Homo sapiens: one gene and its partners. The protein of the gene in region 1 purifies or fractionates together with the protein of each later gene. This does not show direct contact. Each region holds a gene or a part of one and is shown in the gene's direction. Other genes may lie near its edges.

What was found. The genes of interacting proteins can lie anywhere in the genome.
Region 2: the proteins of TPST2 (region 1) and SLC9D1 purify together in Homo sapiens (affinity purification with mass spectrometry; one large-scale study listed by BioGRID and IntAct). This does not show direct contact.
Region 3: the proteins of TPST2 (region 1) and SEC62 purify together in Homo sapiens (co-immunoprecipitation; 2 studies listed by BioGRID and IntAct, with this or other methods). This does not show direct contact.
Region 4: the proteins of TPST2 (region 1) and XPO6 purify together in Homo sapiens (affinity purification with mass spectrometry; one large-scale study listed by BioGRID and IntAct). This does not show direct contact.

Annotation. Positions count from the first base shown.
Region 1 is NC_000022.11:26,580,133-26,583,632, reverse strand, and holds part of TPST2 (protein-tyrosine sulfotransferase 2), read left to right. Parts: intron 1-3,500. UniProt on the Homo sapiens protein: Catalyzes the O-sulfation of tyrosine residues within acidic motifs of polypeptides, using 3'-phosphoadenylyl sulfate (PAPS) as cosubstrate.
Region 2 is NC_000013.11:113,497,521-113,501,020, forward strand, and holds part of SLC9D1 (transmembrane and coiled-coil domain-containing protein 3 isoform 1 precursor), read left to right. Parts: intron 1-821; coding exon 822-1,001; intron 1,002-2,437; coding exon 2,438-2,629; intron 2,630-3,500. UniProt on the Homo sapiens protein: Probable Na(+)/H(+) antiporter.
Region 3 is NC_000003.12:169,990,807-169,994,306, forward strand, and holds part of SEC62 (translocation protein SEC62), read left to right. Parts: intron 1-1,787; coding exon 1,788-2,257; 3' UTR 2,258-3,500. UniProt on the Homo sapiens protein: Mediates post-translational transport of precursor polypeptides across endoplasmic reticulum (ER). Proposed to act as a targeting receptor for small presecretory proteins containing short and apolar signal peptides.
Region 4 is NC_000016.10:28,201,966-28,205,465, reverse strand, and holds part of XPO6 (exportin-6), read left to right. Parts: intron 1-3,500. UniProt on the Homo sapiens protein: Mediates the nuclear export of actin and profilin-actin complexes in somatic cells.

The DNA of each region.
Region 1 (3,500 bases):
CCGCCTGCCTTGGCCTCCCAAAGTGCTGGGATTACAGGTGTGAGCCATCGCGCATGGCACAATTTTTTTTTTTTTTTGACACGCTCCAAGAGCCCTTCCAGCTCTGTGTTTCTAGGATATTGGAGGTTGTCTGAGGCCTCCTGATACCCTGTCTGCCATTTTAAGCCCTCAAGGCATTTTTTTTTTTTTTTTTTTTGAGATGGAGTTTCCTTCTGTCGCCCAGGCTGGAGTGCAGTGGTATGATCTTGGCTCACTGCAACCCCTGCCTCCTCGGTTCAAGTGATTCTCCTGCCTCAGCCTCCTGAGTAGCTGGGATTACAGGTGCCTACTACCATGCCCAGCTAATTTTTGTATTTTTTTGGTAGAGACGGGGTTTCACCCTGTTGGCCAGGCTGGTCTTGAACTCCTCACCTCAAGTGATCTGCCCGTGTCAGCCTCCCAAAGTACTGGGATTACAGGTGTGAGCCACTGTGCCTGGCCTTTTATTTGTTTTGTTCTTTTTTTTTTTTTTTTTCCTTTTTGAGATGGAGTCTCGCTCTGTTGCCCAAGCTAGAGTGCAGTGGTGTGATCTCGGCTCACTGCAACCTCTGCCTCCCAGGCTCAAGCGATCCTCCCACCTCAGCCTCCCAGAGTGCTGGGACTGGAGGTTGTCCCCATTGCATACTCCCTGTGTGGGGAGTTCCTGTCTCTGGGCGCTAGGGTGCCGTGCCACCTTACCTGGTACAGGCCCCTACCTAACTGTTGTTCCCCACAGTGAGATATTTGTTATTGACCACGCCATTTCCCAGAAGCCAAGGCTTGGAAATAGTCACTTTCCCGAGGTCACACAGGCCTGAGATTCAGCACCAGGACTCAAAGCCCATCTGCCCAACTTCAGAGGCTGTCAGTGGAAGTCATGCCTTGATCCCAGCACTGCACGGATAGCCACTGAGTGACGTCTTCCACTAGAATAAGGACACATGAGAACCCTCAACTGGATGTTGGGGTGCAAGATTTAAGAAGCAACGAGGTCCTAGTTGTCCTGGAGTTTACGTTCTGGTGGAGGCATCAGGCAAGAAAAAGTAACCCACATCTCTGACGTGAGATGTCAGCCTATGAAGTTGAGTACCCAGGCCTCTCAGATCTTAACATGCATATGATCCCCTTGGGGAACTTGTTAAAGTGCAGATTCTGTGTTTTTGGTTGTTTTTGTTTTTGTTTCTGTTTAGATGGAGTTTCGATCTTGTTGCCCAGGCTGGAGTGCAATGGTACAACCTCGGCTCACTGCAACCTCTGCCTCCCGGGTTCAAGCGATTCTCCTGCCCCAGCCTCCCAAGTAGCTGGGATTACAGACACCTGCCACCATGCCCGGCTAATTTTTGTATTTTTAGTGGAGACGGGATTTCACTGTGTTGGCCAGCCTGGTCTCAAACTCCTGACCTCAAGTGATCTGCCTGCCTCCACCTCCCAAAATGCTGGGATTACAGGCGTGAGCCACAGCGCCCGGCTAAAGTGCACATTCTGATTAGCAGGTTTGGGGCAGAGACTAAGACTGTGTTTCTAACCAGTTTCCAGGGGCCTCTGATGGTGTTTGTCTAAAGACCACATTTGGAATAGTGAGGGTCTGGATCAGAAATTGGCAGATTACCACTCATAGGCCACATCCGGCCCGCTACCTGTATTTGTAAATAAAGTTTTATCGGAACACAGCTATGCTTATTTATTGACATTTTGTCTGTGGCTGCTGTTGTGTAACAAAAGCAGAGTGGAGTAGTTGTGATAGAGACCAGAGAGCCCACATTGCTGGCCTTTGAAGAGAAAGTCTGCCAGTTGCTTTTCTAATCATCTTTTGAGTCCCTACAAGTTATAAAACTTTGATTTGGTGAGTGTTAGATGCTGATAAAAATAGTAATGATTGCAGTTAAGACTTGGGTGCTTTCTGGGTACTTAGCTCTTTACGTTTATTTTTCTTAGCTCAATTCTATCATAGGCAATACTACTGTCTCCACTTTACAGGCGAGAAAACTGAATAGAGGCTGGGCCATTGGCCCAGAGTTTGTGGACCAATGAGTAGGTGAGGCCAATTTGAGTCAAGTTGACTGATTCTTATTGGACAGGAGCTTCTGCCTAGAACTTTTTCCCAGAGCACAGAGAGGGTTTAGTTTAGATTTCCTTCTGTCCCAGAGTGTTCTGGTGCCTTCATTTCTTTCTCAATCCATCCTTCTGTTTACTCAACAAATACCTGTGCACCCTGTGCTGGAAGTTTGGGGACCATGCTGGGTTCTGAGAGGATGTGGGGACTAGGATGGGGTCCCAGCCCTGCACATTCCATGGGGTTGGCAGGGAAGCAACACCAGAAGCCACACAGGATGCTAAGCACCTTGGGGGATACTGGTACAGGGACAGGAGGCAGTCAGGGAAGACTTCCTGGAGGAAGGGGTGCAAATGATGCCAGTAGGAGTTAGCTTTGTAGAGGAGGTCAGGAAAGGTTTTCCAAGGAGAGAGAATCACAAGTGCAAAAGTTTGGAGGTGTGAGACTCTGTGGCCTGGTATGTTTGGTAGAGTTCAGGGCACAAAGACTATAGTGTGTGTGTGTGTGCGTGTGTGTGTGTGTGTGTGTGTGTGTGTGTGTGTATGTATGTTGAGGGTTGGGGGAATCGGTGGTGTTATAATAAAATTGGAGGTCAGCAGGAGTTAAGTCACAACAGAGCCTCAGTGCGATGCCAAAGGACTTGAATTTTGCCCTGGAGGCTGCTGTTGCCTAGTATGAAGTGCTAAATCACAGAGCGAAAGTCTTCCTCCCCACCCTCTGATGACTTTCCGGAGAAAGCCTCCATTAGGTGCTAACGCGTCTTTAGTGCTTCTCCCCAGACTCCTCTTGTTTAACAAAGATCGGACACAACCGGCTCCTTTGGGGATCCTTCCTTAGGCTGGCGGCCGTCTCTAGCCAGAAGGCATAAAAAAACATTGCTTCCTTCGATTTTATTTTTGCATTAATTTTTTAATTAGGGCATGTTTTAAATTTAATCCAGTGGATTATAGTTTCCCTTGAAAATATGTTTTAAAAATATTGGATCCATTGAACAAAAATGAATACGATTAAAGGGGGTTCTGGATGTAATTAACATTGGGAAGGTAGTGTTCAGAAGCTTGGAATTTGGAGAGCCCCACAACAGGTGAGAGGGCTGGAGGGGGCTGGGCCAGTAGTCACCTCTCTCTCAACATTCCCCTTCTTCCCTGGATACCCAGGGGCCTTGACTGAAGGGCGGGATGGCTGTGTAGCTAAGATGTGGGTGCAGGGATGTAGGTGCCCGTTGATGGTGTAGGAGCTGAGGTTCCTGTTCCAGGCTGCTGCTAGTGCTCATCTCTCTCCTTCTCTGTCTGGTGATTTTCTTATTCTTCTTTTCTTTCTTTCTTTTTTTGAGATGGTCTTGCTCTGTTGCCCAAGCTGGAGTGCAGGGGCAGCATTGCAGCCTTGAACTCCTGGGCTCAAGCAATTCTCCTGCCTCAGCCTCTCGAGT
Region 2 (3,500 bases), on another chromosome or scaffold:
CTGTGTGTGAGACCTGCAGCTGTGCGAGACTTGTAGCTGTGTGAGACCTGCAGCTGTGTGAGACCTGCAGCTGTGTGAGACCTACAGCTGTGTGAGACCTGCAGCTGTGTGAGTCTTGCAGCTGTGTGAGAGACCTGCAGCTGTGTGAGACCTGCAGCTCTTTGTCAGTGGCATCAGATGATGTCTCATGACTACTTAGTAATTGAGGCGATGATGTTCTTCTAGGCTCTGGTCCTCTCTGCTCTGGCCTTGTCCCACCCCTTTAGCTAAGAATAAATGTTTAAAAGTAAGATTATTGATTAAATATAATTGTGTAAAATACATTACTAAATTATATTGCCAGCATCATCCATCAGTTCTTCAAATGATTAATGCTGTTGGTTTCTACATGTGTTTTGGAACAGCTTTCCCTTGTAACTTGAATTTGACTGTGCATTGCATTTAGATAGTAGCTCCACATTCAGGTCTCACATCTGGTTTTAAAGTACCGCTGCACTCACACACATGATAGACCTGGAGCACAGTCACTGTTGAGTAAATGAGTTTTGTGTGAATGGATGACCTACAGATATTACATTTACTTTTGTGTAACAAATGTTTCTTACGTGTGTTGATGTACGTACACAAAAACCTTTCCCTAAACATTTGGCTAAGCTCAGTTATGTTTGAATAACTAGGACACGTGACTTCCCTAGCTGACCAGAATTAAGTTATTGACATATGAACAGGGACATTTGACAAAGCAGGAGGATTGATTAAGAAAGTCATGTCCTAGCTTATTTCTTAATATATCTCACTCTTCTTTTCTTACAAATGAATAGGAAGAAACAGAATATATGGAACTTCTGGCAGCAGAAAAACATCAAGTTGAAGCCCTTAAAAATATGCAACATCAAAACCAAAGTTTATCCATGCTTGACGAGATTCTTGAAGATGTAAGAAAGGCAGCGGATCGTCTGGAGGAAGAGATAGAGGAACATGCTTTTGACGACAATAAATCAGTAAGCGTTCCAGAACAGCTGCTTCTTCACCTCCTGAGCCACTCACTAATCAGAAGACATGTTGTTGAAATTGTTCACGTGTATGTTTTTAATGTAGATTGAAAATGAAGACAAACTAAAATGCTTCTCTGTCGTAGAGAAAATAATTTGGTCTTGTAGAAGTAAGCTAATTATCTTTTATTTTCCTTTTATATTTTTAACACCGACAGTCAGTTCCCCTCCTCAGCAGCTTGTCTGCATTTTCCAGAGGCCAGATGGATTGGGACACTGGGACTCTAGTCTCAGGACAGCCTGGACAGTTGGGTTTAATGCTGATCTACTGGGGTGTTACCAGAAACAGGTCCTAATCCAGACCCCAAGAGAGAGTTCTTGGATCAGGGGTAGTCCATAGAGTAAAGTGAAAGCAAGTTTATTAAGAAAGTAAAGAAACAAAACAATGGCAACTCCATAGGCGAGCAGCCCTGTGGGTTATTTTTATGATTATTTCTTGATTACATGCTAAGCAAGGGGTAGGTTATTCATGAATTTTCTGGGAAAGGGGTGGCGGTTTACTAGAACAGAGGGTTCCTCCCATTTTAGACCACATAGGGTAACTTCCAGATGTTGCCATGGCATTTGTAAGTTGTCATGGCGCGGGTGGGAGTGTCATTCCACATGCTAATGGATTATAATTAGTATATAGTGAGCAGTGAGGACGAGCAGAGGTCACTCTCATTGCCATCTTGGTTTTGGTGGGTTTTGGCTGGCTTCTCTACTGCATCTTGTTTTGTCAGCGGGGTCTTTGTGGCCTGTATCTTGTGATATCAGTCTTGGCGACCTCCTGTCTCACCCTGTGACTAAGAATGCCTGTCCCGGACATGCAGCCCAGTAGGTTTCATCCTCATTTTACCCTGCTCATATTCAAGATGGAGTCGCTCTGGTTTGAACACCTGTAACAGGGGAACATTGAACTTCTTATAGAAAATGATCTTCATCTCTGAAGCAGGAATTCAGGCTGCTCATTTGTTGTAGTGTGTTTAAGATTCTAAGAAAAAAAGTGGGACTGATGACGAAAATTGACTGTGGGTCTTGAGGACTCACAAAAAGGTTGGGTAATAAAAACAAATCAGAATAAGATTAGAAAAGAAAGCAGAGAGAATAAAAATAGAGCAGAAGAAACAAGTTGTTTTAAAATCTACTAGTTATGGAATTAGAGGAGAACTCGTATTTTAAGGGCTATGAATTTCTTGAAAGAATGGTGAAGTAGATCTTGGAAAGTAGCAGAAATCCTAAACCTATCCATTCTTAAATTACTTCTTTAATTGAAAAAGAAGTCCTAATTCACTGCTAATGAACACTGATTGATGTATTTTTAACATTCTTCTGTTTAGCGTTCATTCTCCAAAAATTGAAAGCATTTAATGGATTTTAATTGCATAATATTATTATTCTTGCAGGTCAAGGGGGTCAATTTTGAGGCAGTTCTGAGGGTGGAGGAAGAAGAGGCCAATTCTAAGCAAAATATAACAAAACGAGAAGTGGAGGATGACTTGGGTCTTAGCATGCTGATTGACTCCCAGAACAACCAGTATATTTTGACCAAGCCCAGAGATTCAACCATCCCACGTGCAGATCACCACTTTATAAAGGTAGTGAGTCATGGTGGGGATGCCTGCCTTCCCCCAATTCCTGGTTCATGGTGTCAGTATGACCGAGCTTTATCTTCTGAACAAGGCACAGCCTTCCTTCTAGCAGAGATTTTACTAGAATTCCGTACATTATCTGTGATTTGAGGCATCTTCCCTTAATTTCTAATCTTTTTTTCTAAAGGAATAAGATACTTTAATATTTAAAATGAAAGTTAATTTTGTTTTGGAGAATTTGGAAGACTTTGAAATTAGGAGTTACTGTAATGGGATTAAAGCTTTAGTCATCTAAAAACCATTTTCACTAAAATTAAAAATCCTTAAAAGGCAGAGAGGTCTTGGCTAAGGAGTCATATATGGCTTCATTTAGCCCTGGGGTGCAGAGCATGAGAACCCATCCAGCAGTGCCTGGCGTTCCAGATGGAACTGGATTCAGACCTGTTTCCTCCCAGGAACTTGGTCTAGACAAAGGCTATGCAGGGAGGTACTTGAAGCTGAGAGCATCATGGTTCGGGTGGTCACTCAGGAGGGAGTGGCACGACCATGACAGGTGCAGCCCCTCAGGGAAGCTTGGCAAGATCTGATATACTGTCAGGTCTCCAGCAGAGACTGGAGGTTTGTACAGGAGCAGAAACCAAGCCAGAGAATCTAGGCTCAAAGACGGTGCTATCTCAGGCGAGAGGAAGAGGACTAGCCAGAGAGAGATGTGGTCACGATGGAGTGGGTCCCAGGAGGGCTGGGGCTGCCGAGTGACTCTGTCAGTGCCCTCCAAGAAGGGGTGGAGGTATCTGTAAAACTATTCTTTCTCCCTTTGTAATGAATAATCAATTTCCAGGGAGAGATTTTGAGACTGTAAGTATCCTGCTCCTCACTG
Region 3 (3,500 bases), on another chromosome or scaffold:
AATAAAAATTGCTATTTTTAAAAGTCAAGACAGCTATAACGATTTTCTTCCATTTATACAAAGCAAAATAATGGAAGACACATAGATTAGCTTATTTCAGGCTTTATATGAAAACAGTGACAGAATTGTCTAAAGAAAACAAAAACCAAAACTCCTGTCATAATTGATTAGTCTGTAACATTCACATAATCATCATGACCTTTTAAAAAACAGGAAAAAATCACTCAGCTCTACATAATTGGTAAATTCAGAGAAAACTAAATATTGGGGTTTGTGATAACTCATTACTACAAATTTTAAAATTCAAATTCCATTTTTCTACAGTTTTTTCATAATACAGTGTTATAAAAGAGTAAACCTTATGTATTTAAGTGATCTTGCTTTCATTAACATTGTATTTTTCCTAATATTGAGAGGATTGGTCTTTAAGCAAAAATTACATAGTTTACCTAACTAATAAAACAAAAAGGTCAGGTTCAGTGACTCACAACTGCGATCCCAACTACTCGGGAGGCTGAGGTGAGAGGATCACATAAAGCCAGGAGTTTAAGACTGGCCTGGACAACATAGCAAGAACCTGTCTATCAAAGTAGGTAGATAGGTAGAGAGAGAGGGAGGATAGATAGAGAGAGAGAGATTAGATAAATAAATGATAGATATAGACCTGTAATCCCTGCACTTTGGGAGTTTGAGCCCAGGAGTTCAAGACCAGACTGGGCAACTTGGCAAGACCCCATCTCTACAAAAAATACAAAAATTAGCGGAGCATGGTGGCACGTACCTGCTACTTGGAGGCTGAGGTGGGAGGATTGCTTGAGCCCAGGAGGTTGAGGCTGCAGCGAGTCATGATTGTGCCACTGCACTCCAGCCTGGGTGACAGAGCAAGACCTTGTCCTCAATAAATAAATAAGAAAACAAGGATTAAAAGATGGAAACTTTCTAATACTGGGGTTCCTTATCCAGGGCTAATTTATCCTTTAGGCATAGTAAACGTGTGCCTTGGACCAAGATACATATAGGGGTCCACAGAAATATTTTCATTTTTATTTCTTTTAAATCAGAAGTAGTAATGTATATACATGTATGTAATAGCAAACCTATACAGTATTTTATTCGTGTTTATACAGATGTACAGAAAATATAGTCATAAATGTATAGAAAATATAATATTTAATAGTTTTTGTGGAGTAAGTGCCTTACAAAGGCAAAAGGGCCTAGGGCCTTGGGAAGTATGATGCAGCCCTGCTTTTCCTTCTTAAAGGCTTCCTTCCTAAACACCTTTCATCTCTTTATTTTATTCTTTTCCTACACCATGATCTTATGAATACTTAAATTCCCAACTGATTGCTATGTGTATTGAAGCATAATATCACAAAGTACATAAATCAGAAGTGTATATCCATGTAAGTGTACACCCAGATGGAAAAAAGAAGTAATTTTTTTCAGTGACATTATTGCATTGTGACCTCAAGTTCAGAGCAACATTCTGTGCCCCTAGAATACCGTGATAGCTGCTAAACTAGTCAGGAATTTTTTGTTTTCAGGCATGCAGTGGTGTAATTATAGCTCACTGCAGCCTCGAGCTCCTGGGCTCAAGTGATCCTCCCAAGTAGCTTGGATTAGAGGTTTAGCCACCACGCCCAGCACTAATCAGGATTTAAATATTAATATTTAAGGTGTATGAAATGTGCAGATAATAAAACTGTTTTCCCAGCTTTTTATTAACAAATACTCCCTTCTGAGGCAGTGTTTGAATTACTCAATTAGAGAAATTTTTCTCCCCACAGCTCGATGCATTCTATTTCTCATCATTTGGCTCATAACTGGAGGAAGGCACCACTTTTGGTTCTTGCCAAATCTGACTGCTGATGTGGGCTTCATTGACTCCTTCAGGCCTCTGTACACACATGAATACAAAGGACCAAAAGCAGACTTAAAGAAAGATGAGAAGTCTGAAACCAAAAAGCAACAGAAGTCCGACAGTGAGGAAAAGTCAGACAGTGAGAAAAAGGAAGATGAGGAGGGGAAAGTAGGACCAGGAAATCATGGAACAGAAGGCTCGGGGGGAGAACGGCATTCAGACACGGACAGTGACAGGAGGGAAGATGATCGATCCCAGCACAGTAGTGGAAATGGAAATGATTTTGAAATGATAACAAAAGAGGAACTGGAACAGCAAACAGATGGGGATTGTGAAGAGGATGAGGAAGAGGAAAATGATGGAGAAACACCTAAATCTTCACATGAAAAATCATAATCTGACTAATTTTGGGACTGAATGAATAAGTACAAGAGGTTGGATTTTCTATGTTGGCTGATTACCATATTGAACACATGGCATTTGTAGCATTCTTTAAATCTATCTACTGAAATGTATTTGACATTCAAGCAGTTATATTCGGTCCTTCATTTTATAGAATATTGGCACTATTATTGGTACAGTTTAAAGCCATTAATATGTTTTATCCATTTGATAATTTTACAGTAAGTAGGTCTCATTCATTTTGACAGTTATCAAAGATGTACTTTCCACAGTTAAATTTACATTAATGGCAATTTTTGATAGTTTTATGGCTTTTTACTGTTAGACTAATCAAAAATAACTTTAAAAGGAACAAAGAAACTCCAACATTTCACATTATGCATAGTTATGTAGCCATTTCACAGTTTCTTTAAGATGTGTAAACTCATTGTCCTTGATAGTTTTTATTTTTCATTATAAAATTATACCAGGAGATTTCTTTTAAGATTCTGAGTTAGCAGAGTTCAAAACTATTTTGTGGAAACAAGCCAACTAGTAACAATGCAGCAACACTTCTGGTTTAGCTAAATTATTTTTCCAATGTAGGAAATCCACACTGATTTGTACGTCTGACTGAGAGAAAGATGGTCGTCTCCAGCAGAGAAAGTGAACAGCATTTGTTGGAAGGTGATGGCTCTCCCTCCTCCCTCCCCATTTCATTGGCGTAACGTAAAGTGTATTCTGTACATAATTTACAAATAAAACATTTTATTTTAATTGTTACTTATTATTTAGATATTTCTCAACACTTAAATTCATAAAATTAAGACCATGTAAGGGTATGTTTTTAGAGAAATGGAAGTTTGAGTAACCCACAGAACATCTGTGATCTTTCTACAGCAGCTTCAGTTTTGTGCCAACATTCCATGTATTTTGAATATGAGCAAAAACTGATCTTAAGAGCAGACTTAAAGTAGCTTTGTACGCCTTAATGTTCATTTTGATTTATTTTAAATCTTTACATTCAGAAATGAGATACTGTATTATCAGACCAGGAGGCATTGCTGTGAAAGATAATTTCCTATTCTAAAATATCAAATTTAAAATAAAGATAATGAAAGAAAACATAAGAGAACTATTGGACTCTAATTGCTTTGAACTAGTTTTGCAGTTTGACTTTACGTCTTATACATCTTAGTTACAAGTCTTTGGAAACTCTTGTTTACTTATGAGCATAATCATTCCTTGGAGTTATACT
Region 4 (3,500 bases), on another chromosome or scaffold:
GTCAGGGAAGGCTTCCCAGGAAGGTATATTTGAGTCTTGAAGGATGAGGAAGAGTTTGACACTGGGACAAAGAAAGGGCCTTCCAAGTGAAAGTTTCTTGCAGACAGTTACAAAGGTCACATATATAGCAACAAAGATAATAGAAAATGATAGGTGTGAAGTGAGAGTGAAGGAAATAAACATTTGTTGGGTGCGTAGGACTTTCTAGGGCTTTATATGCATACCTATGTACACATATACATGTAGTACACAAACATGGTATTTTTTTTATCTGAAACCTTTACTCCTACTTTCCTGGCCAGTTATTGCCCTATTTCTTTTTTCCCCTTTGCAACAAAACCCCAGGAAGGAGTGGCCTGTACTTGGTCTCTAATTCCTCACTTTCCCTTTGCTCATTAATTTTAGACATAGGATCTCGCTCTGTCGCCCAGGCTGGAGTGCAGTGGAGTGACCATAGTTCACAGCAGCCTTGAACTCCTGGGCTCAAGGGATCCCCCTGCCTAGGCCTCCCAAAATGCTGGGATTATAGATGTGAGTCCCCACGCCTGGCATTATTCTCTCTTAATCTCACTTATCAAGGTGATAAGTGTTGCTTATCCAGTGTTGCTAAATCCAGTGGTTAGCTCTCAGTCCCTATCTTACTGGATCTGTCAGTAGTGTCAGACAAGTGGAGTACCCCTTCTGCAGTTCAGCCTTTCGTCACTTGGCCGCTGGGACACTAAGGTGTGTTCTTGGTTTTCCTCCTGTCGCACAGGTTGTTTCTTCCTCATCTCATAGCCGGAACACTCTAGGCCTCGAACTTAGTGCCTTCATCCAGGACACCTATAACCCAACATCTCTCTCCTCAGCTCCAGTTCTCGAGTCTCCAGCTGTCTGCTTGACATCCAAGCTGGTTTGTGAGACGGGTCACATCTCCCCTCTAGCTCACCTCCTTTAGCTCTCACTGGCTGTGCTGCAGCTCCCTCGGTCTTCTTACTGCTCTTCAGACCTTCTGGGCATGTTCCTGCTCCAGGCCTTTGGCCTGGCTCCCTGCCTCTGCTTGGACCGTGCTCTCCCTGAGAATCTGCTTGACTAAACCTTTAAGCCTCGAGTCACTTTTCCAGTGGGGCCTTCCCTCACCACCCTGTTTAAAATGGTAATGCCACTTCAGCACTTCCAGTCCCTGACATCCTGCTTTACTTCTCTTTTTGTACAATTTTTTAACATTTTATATACTCAATATTATTAATGAGGTTGGTCTTTTGTTGTCTCCTGCTAAAATGTTAGCTCCATAAAGCTAGGGAATCTCTCTTTTGTTCATGTATCCCAAGAGTCTAGAGCAATTCTTGGCATAGTGGGCAATTAAATTGTGGTAGGGATGTTGTTGAGGTCTTGGGTGTTCAAAGGGAGCTTTAGGGAAGGAGTAAACTAGGCTCCCTAGCAGTTTCAGAAGTTTGGAAGTTTCAGAAGAGAAGGATGTGAAGAAGTAGTTGGAGAGAAGGCTATCAAGGTAGTTTGTGGCTAGATGATGGAGGGTCTCCAGTACTACCCTAGGGAGTTTGGCTTTCTCTTGTTGGATGGTTTTTCCTTAAAGGAAACTTAATCTGCTGTGTATAGGTTAGATGTGGGAAACCAGATGTTACACCATGCCTGTGTGGATGTGACAAGGGCCTGCCTGTTCTTGCATGTGTAATTAGTGGTTGAGAGGAAGACCTGGTAAGGGAGTTGTCACTTAAAACTGATTCCAGAGTTAAGAGATGAGGAAGAAGGAAAAGCACAAGCTGATTTTGGAAGCCTGTAACCTGGCGATTGAGAGTAGTAGAAAGTTTTAATCAGTTGGTGATTTGGATTTGGTAGGAATGGAAGCGATAACATGTAAACTGATAGGAAGAGATGACAGGAGATGGGCCATGTGCTGATGAAATATGGGATGTGGCTATCTCTGTAGGTAGGTGAGCAGTTGTGGCGCTGTTGACATGAAGGTAGTTGGCCCTGGGCACGAGAAGGATGTTGAAGATCTTAAGTAGTTGCATTGTCAAATGTATCTGTCTAAGCCAAGGAAGATGTGATAGCACAGGCTGTGTTGAAAGGGTAGGAATTCCTGAAAGTGTGGTTGCCACTCTACCTCTACTTTTTCAACCTCCCACCTCTCCTTTCCCCCTGTCATTCATTCTACAACCCATTGCTGACTGACTTTTTTTTTTTTTTTTTGAGATGGGGTCTTACTCCGTCGCCCAGGCTGGTGTGCAGTGGAGCAATCATGTCTTACTGCAGCCTCTATCTCCTGGGGCTCACGCGATCCTCCCACCTCAGCCTCCTGAGTAGCTGGAACTATACGTATGCATCACCATGCCTGGGTAATTTTGTATTCTTTGTAGATACGAGGTTTCACCATGTTGCCCCTGCTGGCCTTGAGCTGCTGGGCTCAAGTGATCCTCCGGCCTCAGCCTCCCAAAGTGCTAGGATTACAGGCGTAAGCCACCACGCCCAGCCAGCAGACTTTTTGTCTTTACCACTTTTCAAGATTATGTGTAACATCTGTGTGCTGAGTTCAGTTTAATGCGTATTTTCAATCCTTAGGTCATTTGACCTCTCAGTGTGGCCTTTGGCAGCCACTGATCTCCTTTTCTTTTCTTGAAACACTTTTCTTCTTGGCTCCCGTGGCATCCATGGTATTAGTCTCTTGGTTTAGCCTCCCATGGCTTCAGCTATGACCCGTGTACCAATGAAAACTAAACCCTCACCAGCTGTAGATATCCAGTGTTCTGACAACATCAAATTAAATGTGTGTTAAACCAAATCCATCATCTTCCTCTCAGGTTAGTGCCTCCTCTGTCTTGCCCTGGTTCTGTTAATGACCTCATTTTCTAGCTAGTCAAATGATGAACCTGAGTCATCTTTAACTTCCTCTTCTATAGCGCCCCCCTGCTTCCAGACCTGTTGATGCTGCTGCTAACGTATCTGTGTCCTGACCCTGACCTTTCCCTCCATTCCCTCTGCTTTGATCAAGCTGTCATTGTCTCTTGCTTTGGTTGTTGCTGTCATGACCGGTCCTCTCTTCCAGGTTCTGCGTCCCTCTGTCCATCTTCCGTACTGCTGAGCTGCCTCATAGAGCTCAGATGTGATCATGCCACGTGAACCCCAGTCATTCAGAGCAGAGGGTTCCCACTGTTGTCTGAGACCAAGTTTTCATCATGGTAGAGTAACATGGGCCCTGAATTTTAAGTTTCTTACTTACTTTGAGGTCCCTCAGTAAGGATGAAGATGGTTCATTAAATACTTAAAGTGATTTATTTGGAGTATCTATGAAAGACTTCCCAAAGTACACCTTGTTTTCCAGCCACAGCAAACCATTTGTCATTCCCAGAACACTCAGTGCACTTTAATACTTGTCTGCCTTTGCTGATGCTGTTCCCTCTGCTCTAGCGCCCTTTTCTTTCTTGCAAATGAAACTTATGTGACATCTCAAGGTTACCATAAACATTACCTCTCTGAGGCTTTCCAGCTGCTAGTTTATCATA